Homo sapiens: one gene and its partner. The protein of the gene in region 2 purifies or fractionates together with the protein of the main gene of each other region. This does not show direct contact. Each region holds a gene or a part of one and is shown on either strand. Other genes may lie near its edges.

Region 1 (4,480 bases), on a different chromosome or scaffold from region 2:
TTGAGCCCAGGAGTTTGAGACCAGCCTGGCCAACGTGGTGAAACCCTGTCTCTACTAAGTACAAAAAAAAAATTAGCCAGGAGTGGTGGCAGGTGCCTATAATCCCAGTTACTCGGGAGGCTGAGGCAGAAGAATCACTTGAACCTGAAAGGTGGAGGTTGCAGTGAGCCGAGATTGTGCCACTGCACTCCAGCCTCGGCGACAGGATGAGACTCTGTCTCAAAAAAAAAAAAGGAAGGAAAGAAGAAAGGAGAGAGGGACTAAGGGAGGAAGGAAGGAAGGCAGGCAGGCAGGCAGGCAGGCAGGCAGGCCTCCCTCACATCCCTCCTCAGCTCTCAGGAGCTACCCTGATGGTACCAAGGGCATCACCCTAAATGTGCACCTCAACACCTCCCCTCCTTACCAAGGTTCAGAGCAGCACTCCCCACCCCGCCCTCCCTTACAGGCCACATCTGCCCAGGTGAGAAGTTCTACCAGGCTTTCCCAAACTAGACGGCATCCATCCCATGTCCACTGCAGTCTGCCTAGCTCCATGATGACGATGCCACCACCTCTCTGGACTTTATAAGTATTACTTCTACCACTACTATTACTGTTACTGCAATTACTACTAATAGTATTAGTACTATCACTCCTCCTGCCCTCTCCCACCCCCACTGGCATCTTGTCCAAATCTGCCTTAGGTTTTCTTGCCTCGGTGCCCTTATCTGGGCTGCTCCTGCCACTTGGACCAACATCATGAGCCCCTCCCTACTTTCTGAGCACAGTTCAGGGGCCCTCCATGCAGGAGACCATCCCAGAATGACCCATACAAAAGGGATCCTGCCCTCTGGATCCTCATCTCAGGGCCAAGGCCTTGTTCCTTGCTGGATCGGGGAGGCTCTTAAAGTTGTTTCTTGTACCTGCAGGGACTGGGAGGTTCCTGAGCCCATCACATGTATTGATCATAAAGAACCCCTCTCCCATCCCTCCTGACTGTCTCCCATCCAGGCCAGCTTGGTCTCAGGCGGAGCCCCTCTGTGGCCTCTCCTGCCAGGTCACATTTCAGGCCTCTCTATCCCCTGGCCTGCCACTCTGCCCCAATCCTGCCAAGAGGAAGGGGTTTGGTGCTGGAGTCCGAGGCTGCTCCCGGGAAAATGGCAGCAGTGGGGTGGGCGTGCAGAGCAGAGAAAGCCTCTATTTATAAAGCTCTCAGCTCCCTCCCTCCCACCCCGAGGCTGGGGCCTGACTGCTGGCTCCCACTCCAGTAACAGTGACCCTGTGGGGCAGCTCCCACCAAGCGGAGCCACACCTAGGCCCTGCCCTGCCTAGGTCCTGAGAGCCCTGGCCAGGTCAGGCAGCAGGGCCCCAGCCCTAGCAGGGAACTGGCAGATCAGGTTCTTCCCAGATGTGGGAGATAGTGTGGTTGCCATACCAACAGCAGAGTGGGTTCCCCCCTCCCAGATGGACTGGGGCCGTCCAATCCGAGGGGCTCTGGGATCCTGGCATCTCCACTAGGGCTGGGGCTGCCCACCAGACTTGGAACACATTAAGCAGTGAATTCTCGCTGGGATGCTAATCCTCAGCGGGACACAGCACCTTCTAGTAAACATGACTACATGGGTTGCTGGCTGGGTGTGGGCTCCTGGGGAGGGGAGTGCCCGGGTTGGGGGTGGGGAGAGAACTGTACTCAACAGAAACAACAACGATGACAACGACAACGACAAAGACAAGACTACAGGACCTGCTCCCAGAACCCTGGGATGGGCCAGCCCCGGGCCTGCGGAATCCCACTGAATCCCATAACCACGGTGTTACACCAGATTTACAGAAGGGGAGGGCGGGGCTCTGAGAGAAGTGACTTGTCCAAGGTCACATGCTGCACAGGTGCAATATTAACCACTTTGACACCAATAATGAGCTTGCCTTTGGTGAGCACACATATGCAGAGTCCCACAGAATCCTCGCATCTGTCCTGGGAGGCAGGAATACTGATCCCATTTTTCAGACTGAGAAACTGAGGCCCAGTGAGATGAAGGCCCCTCCCCCAAGGTCACAGGAGGGCACATTCCCACCCACACCTGACCCTAGGTCTTCCCATGATGTTGAGTTGCCTGTTACTCTCTGCCCCTAAACGGATAGGACTTCTTCCAATCTCAGCATCGTGGGCCTGGACAGCTTCCCAGCCAGACCCCAGCCCTCTCTCCATCCCCCAGGCCCAGGGACCAAGGAAACAGACCTCCCGTGGAGCAGAAAAGAAACAACTCCTGGCTTCCGGCCTGACTATCCAAACGTGTGAAATGGCCATGAGGGACTCATGGCACCAGCCGCCCATTGCACAGGTGCGGAGACTGAGGCTCGGAGAAGGGGTTGTGGTGGACGCATGAGTCCCTGGGCCTGGGACCCAGGTCGCTAAATGCCCCGCCAGGCGCCAGTCACTGCTGGACAAGGGCAGGGAGGTAGCACCCAGCCGGTGCCTCCTCCCCTCCTCAGCCAGGCAGGCGCCAGGGGAGCAGGGTAACCCAACCAGCCCAAAGGGTGGGCACCGGTGCCTCGCCCCAGGCAGCAGGGCCAAGGCCCGGCTCGGGCCGCACGGGCTCTTTCCCTCTTCCGGTCAGCAAGGGCTCAGGGGGGCAGAGGTGTGCCGCGGCGGGGACGAGGGCAGCAGCCCGGGAGGGCTTTCCCGCGTCCCCAGGCGTCTGCCGCAGGGTGCTCCCCGCCCGCCGCACATCCGGGCCCCCGGCGCACGGCGCGACGCCAGGCCTCACCTGCACCGCCCGGGTGAAGAAGATGCCCGCGTCCGACGCCAGCTTCTTCATGTTGAAGTCCATGGCGTGCCCGCACGGCCGCCGCGCACGGCCCGAGCGCAGCCGGCAGCCCCCGGCCCAGCCGCCGCCGCCAACCGCACCCCGCCCACCTGCTGCGGGGCACCAGCCCTCCGCGCACCCGCCTGCCGGCCTGCCCGCCTGCCCGCCCGCCGCAGCCGCCGAGCCAGCCCGAGCGCGCAGGGCGGGGCGCGGAGGCCGCGGGTCGGAGCCAGAGGGGCGGGGGCGGAGCTGGCGGTGCCGGGGCGGGACGGGACGGCAGTGGGGCGGAGCTAGAGGGGCGGGGGCCGGGCTGGTTGGCGGAAGCCGGGCGGAGTCGGAGGGGGCGGGACTGGCGGGACAGGGGCGGAGCGAGAGGGCAGTGGGGCGGAGCTACATGGGTGGGGGCGAGGCCTTGGCGCGGCCAGAGCGGGGGTTGGTCTGGGGAGCAGGTTGTGCTGGGCAGGGCTCGCTGCTGGGCAGTGCTCGCTGCTGCCCCCATGCGCCTGCCGCCGCGGATTGGGCCGGCCTCTTTTTTTCCTTTTACTAAAATTATTAAAACTGGAACACATGTGCTCTTAGATGATTGCAGGTACACGCCATAATTACATATTATTTGCCATCTTACCAATGCTTTTCAAAAGTTTTAATTGATAAATATATATTTACGGCCTACAAGGTGATGAAATTGTGGAATGATGAAATCAAGTTAATTGACATATCCATCACCTCACCTACTTTTTTTGTGGTTAGAACATTTCAAATGTACTCTTTTAGCAATTTTGAAATATGCAATACTTTTTTTTTTTTTTTGTAGACAGAGTCTTGCTCTGTCGCCCAGGCTGGAGTGCAGTGGCGCGATCTCGGCTCACTGCAGCCTCCACCTGCCGGGCTCAAGCGATTCTCCTGCTTCATTCAGCCTCCCGAGTAGCTGGGACTACAGGCGCCCACCAACATGCCCCGCTAATTTTTTGTACTTTAGGAGAGACAAGGTTTTGCCATGTTGCCCAGGGTGGTCTTGAACTCCTGATCTCAGGCAATCTGCCTGCCTCAGTCTCCCAAAGTCACTAAGTGACTGAGTAGTCACCAATATGTGCAACAGATCTCTAAAATGGGCCTCTCTTGCTTTCTCCTCCCACCACCCAGGCCTGCTGCCTCTCCCCTGTTTGTGCCTCTTCATCTCCGCTCTTTATTCACACCCCCTCCCTCCCATTCCCATTTCTTCCACTCTGTTTCCCTTGGGTTTCCTCCCGTTACTCCTCCTCTCTGACCTCTCCTCCTCTCTTCTGCCCTGACCTTGGTGACTGAGCCGGAGTCAGGCTTGGGACTTGCCCTCCACCGCTGGAACAGCTGTTTGTCAGCCTGGGAGGCCCTGTGGCTTCCCCAAATTGGAGGAGGGTTGGGGTGGCGGTCACGGGAAGGGAGGGGGTTCTGGAGCTGGGGCCTGGAGCCCCCTGTGTGGTGAGAGGAGGAGATCAAAGGTTGGGTGACTGTCAGGGTGGAGAGAATGAGCTGCCCTGGGAGCACAGATGTGTGATAACCTTGAAACCAGCTCCTCACAGCCCCAGGCAAGGAGATGACCTACAGGTGCTCCTGACCCCAAATGCCTTCCCTTGGGGCTCAGATAGAGGCTTTGTACTGGTCTTCACCTCTCCTTGCTGTCTACCTCTAGGTTTCCTCTTTTTTTTTTTTTTTCT
Region 2 (3,423 bases):
TAATACTTACTGAATGCTATTGAGAGGCCAGGCATTGTTGTAAACATTGTGCATCAATTAACTCATTTAACTTTCATAATAATGCTGTGAAATAGGTTTATTACCATTTTACAGATGGAGAAACTGCAGCATGACCCAGTGAAACAGTTTGTCCAAGGTCACAAAGCCAGTATACATGTAACTTGGATTTAAACCCAGGTAACAAGACTCCAAAGCTTAATGCTCTTCACACACACACATCTCGAAGCTCTTAAGGAGTATGGAGTGTTTCTTAAGTCCACAGAAGATGCTCAAGAAATGGTTAATAGGTAAGATTGAGGAAACAATATGTTGTCAGTGACACCATAACATTATTATTATATTCTGGACAAACAGTGTTAGTGTCCCCTAAGAACGTGTGAAAAATGCAAATTCAAATCAACTCATACAGAAACTCTAGGACTGAGGCTTAGCAATCTGTGCTTTAACACGTCCTTCCAGTGATTTCGACACAGCACTAGAGCTCAGAACTACTAGATTCCTTTATCCCATCCCTGTGTAATACACATGAGTAATGCTCAGTAAATGTTCTTGAAATGTATTTAATTAAGCCTACTGGATATGGACTCAATAATCCTCACCAAAATACTGCTATTCTTAGTATAAAGAGCAGGCCATTCTTCTCGAAGTTTGCTAGTCTCCCGCTAAAGGCTATACTAAGGCTAATCTTAGTGAAATTTTTTTTTGTCGCAAACAGTCACAGAGAAAGAGTTCATGATATACAAAATGATTTTATTAGATGCCAAATTTTTATTAACACCATTTTATTTCTTTTGCAGCTTTAATTTTTAACATTATAACATTTACTGGCTCCTCTGGGTGACTAAATATCTTCACATGCCCACTAGCTAAAAAGAATTTCTAAGTAGAACTCAACTGAAACTGCAAGCTACTGCTCTAAGAAATGCATACTTATGTTTATTTGCTCTCCTATATAATCCTGTTTACAAATAGCATAACTGCAAAGATTTATATGTAATTTCTAAATCCTTCAGGTTGCTCTACCATTCATCTTCTTATGTCTGGCAAGATAAACACTCTTAGTGAACACTTTGCTGCATCTCTTAAATGAGATTTGTCTCCAGTTTATTTCCTATAGAATAAGGGATGCACTTGGAACTGAAAAATTCCTTCAATTTCTAAAGTTTCCACATTCATACAACTTTTCTCCTGTAGGAGTTTGCAGGAGATTCCTATTGCCTATAGTCTTTCCCACATTTGCTACATGTACACAGATTTTTCCTAGTGTGAGTATACTTAGGTCAATTAAGGGATTAATACTGACAAAGGCTTTCCCACATTTATTGACTTCATATGATTTCTCTACAGTATAAACTCTAATAAAAAAATCTGCATCATTGCTAAAAGTCTCCCATGTTCACCACCTTCATACAACTTTTCCCCAGTATACATTTTTCTGATGTTAAATAAGGGAGGATCTATGAATGAAGTTTACCGTGATAAACACTGCTTCTCTTCTGTAAGATTTCTCACATGTATAGGGATTCATATGATCTAAAGGCTTTTCCACACTTACCACACTATTGGGTTTCTCTCCATTATGTACTCTTTGATGGGCAGTAAGATTCGAGCCTTTGCTAAAAGCTTTCCCACACTCACTACATTTATATGGCTTTTCTCCAGTATGAATTCTCTGATGTACAGTAAGGTTTGAACTACAGCTGAAGGTCTTCCCACATTTAATACATTCGTAAGGTTTCTCTCCAGTATGAATACTGTGATGTTGAAGCAGGGACGACCTATGACTAAAGGCTTTCCCACATATACTGCATTCGTAGGGTTTCAATCTAATGTGATTTCTCAAATGCATATTCAGTGATTCAAGCTGGTTGAAGGATTTCCTGCATTTCTAAACTTCAAACGGTTTTTCTTCAGTATGAATACTCTGATGTTGAACAAGAAATGAGAAGCTACTAAAGACCTTGAGACATTTGTTGCATTCATATTTTTTCTTCATACTGTGAATTCTTTGATGTTGAGTAAGGTGTGAGCTACAGCAGAAAGCTTTCCCACATTCTCTACATTCATAAGGCTTCTCTCCAGTATGGCTTTTCTGATGGTGAATGAGAGACGAACTATGAATGAAGGCCTTTCCACATATACGACACTCATAGCGTTTTTCTTGCGTATGAATTCTTAGATGCTGAATGAGAAGGGACACACGACTAAAAGACTTTCCACAGTTCATACATTCATACGGTTTCTCTCCCGTGTGAGTGCTCTGATGGTTAGTAAGTGATGAGCCATGGCTAAAGGCCTTCCCACATTCAATGCATTTGTAAGGTTTCTCTCCACTATGGCTTATCTGATGTCGTGTAAGGGATGAACCATGGCTAAAAGTCTTCCCACATTCACGACATTCATAGGGCTTCTCTCCTGTATGAATTCTCCAGTGGCGACTGAGGATTGACTGTTTGCCAAAGGCTTTCCCACATTCACTGCATGTATAGATTTTCTCTCTATTACAAGTCTGGGGAAGGGTAAGAGATTTGCTCTGGTTGAAGGCTGCCCCACTTTTATTAGAATTTAAAAGTTTCTTTCCACCATTTATTCTCTCACTTTTTATAACTGACTTTTTTGATAAATTCTTCTTTAATATATCATATTTGTGTGAATTCCCTTCAGCAGAATTGTTTTGTGGTTCAGAAAGAGTAGACTTTGAATGAAAGGTGCTTCTAAATGTGTCGCATTCTGTATATTCCAAATTCTTATTAGAATTTGAAAATTCATAACTTTGTTTTACAACTTTTTCCATTGTTACTGGTTGGGGTGAATCTTCATCATAAATATCCTTCTTTGTTGATAATTCCTTGTTTTCCCATCTTGATTCCCAATCTGAAATATATCAAGAAAGCAAAGCACTGCCTTTTTTTTTTTTTTTTTTTTTTTTTTTTTTTTTTTTTTTTTTTTTTTTTACTTCTTGAAAAAAGCTTCTACAGTGGAATTAGGAGAATTGGATAAGAAATGAAGCACCCAGAAAACACATAGTTCTGACAACTCAAATATTTCAGTGACTTCTGAACAATGCTCAAATAGAGCAGAGAATCCAAAGTTCACAGAAGCAGGAACAGAGTGTGATAAAGGAAATGGGTAAGCTGTACGAAATGGATAAAATAGTATGGAAAAAAGGAAAGTATCAGAAATAAGATGTGGAAGGCATTCAGGATTACAAATCATCATTTTGTGCCTATATTCATGTGGGAAAGGTTGCATTTTGTTTCATAGCCTTTTTTTCCAACCTTCCATTAATCTCAATTTGCTGCTGGATTATCAAGCTTAAAATACAGAATTGATACTACTATATTAAACAACTGCAGTAAAAACAAAGTAAATGCTCTTTATAGCTGACAAAGATATAGGCTT

Evidence for each region.
Region 1: the proteins of ZNF302 (region 2) and SH3GLB2 purify together in Homo sapiens (affinity purification with mass spectrometry; one large-scale study listed by BioGRID and IntAct). This does not show direct contact.

Annotation. Positions count from the first base shown.
Region 1 is NC_000009.12:129,025,345-129,029,824, forward strand, and holds the start of SH3GLB2 (endophilin-B2), read right to left. Parts: upstream 2,988-4,480; 5' UTR 2,811-2,987; coding exon 2,748-2,810; exon of another isoform or gene 2,315-2,747; coding exon of another isoform or gene 2,219-2,314; intron 1-2,218.
Region 2 is NC_000019.10:34,683,724-34,687,146, reverse strand, and holds the end of ZNF302 (zinc finger protein 302), read right to left. Parts: intron 3,156-3,423; coding exon of another isoform or gene 2,974-3,155; exon of another isoform or gene 2,896-2,973; coding exon 1,910-2,895; 3' UTR 751-1,909; downstream 1-750. UniProt on the Homo sapiens protein: May be involved in transcriptional regulation.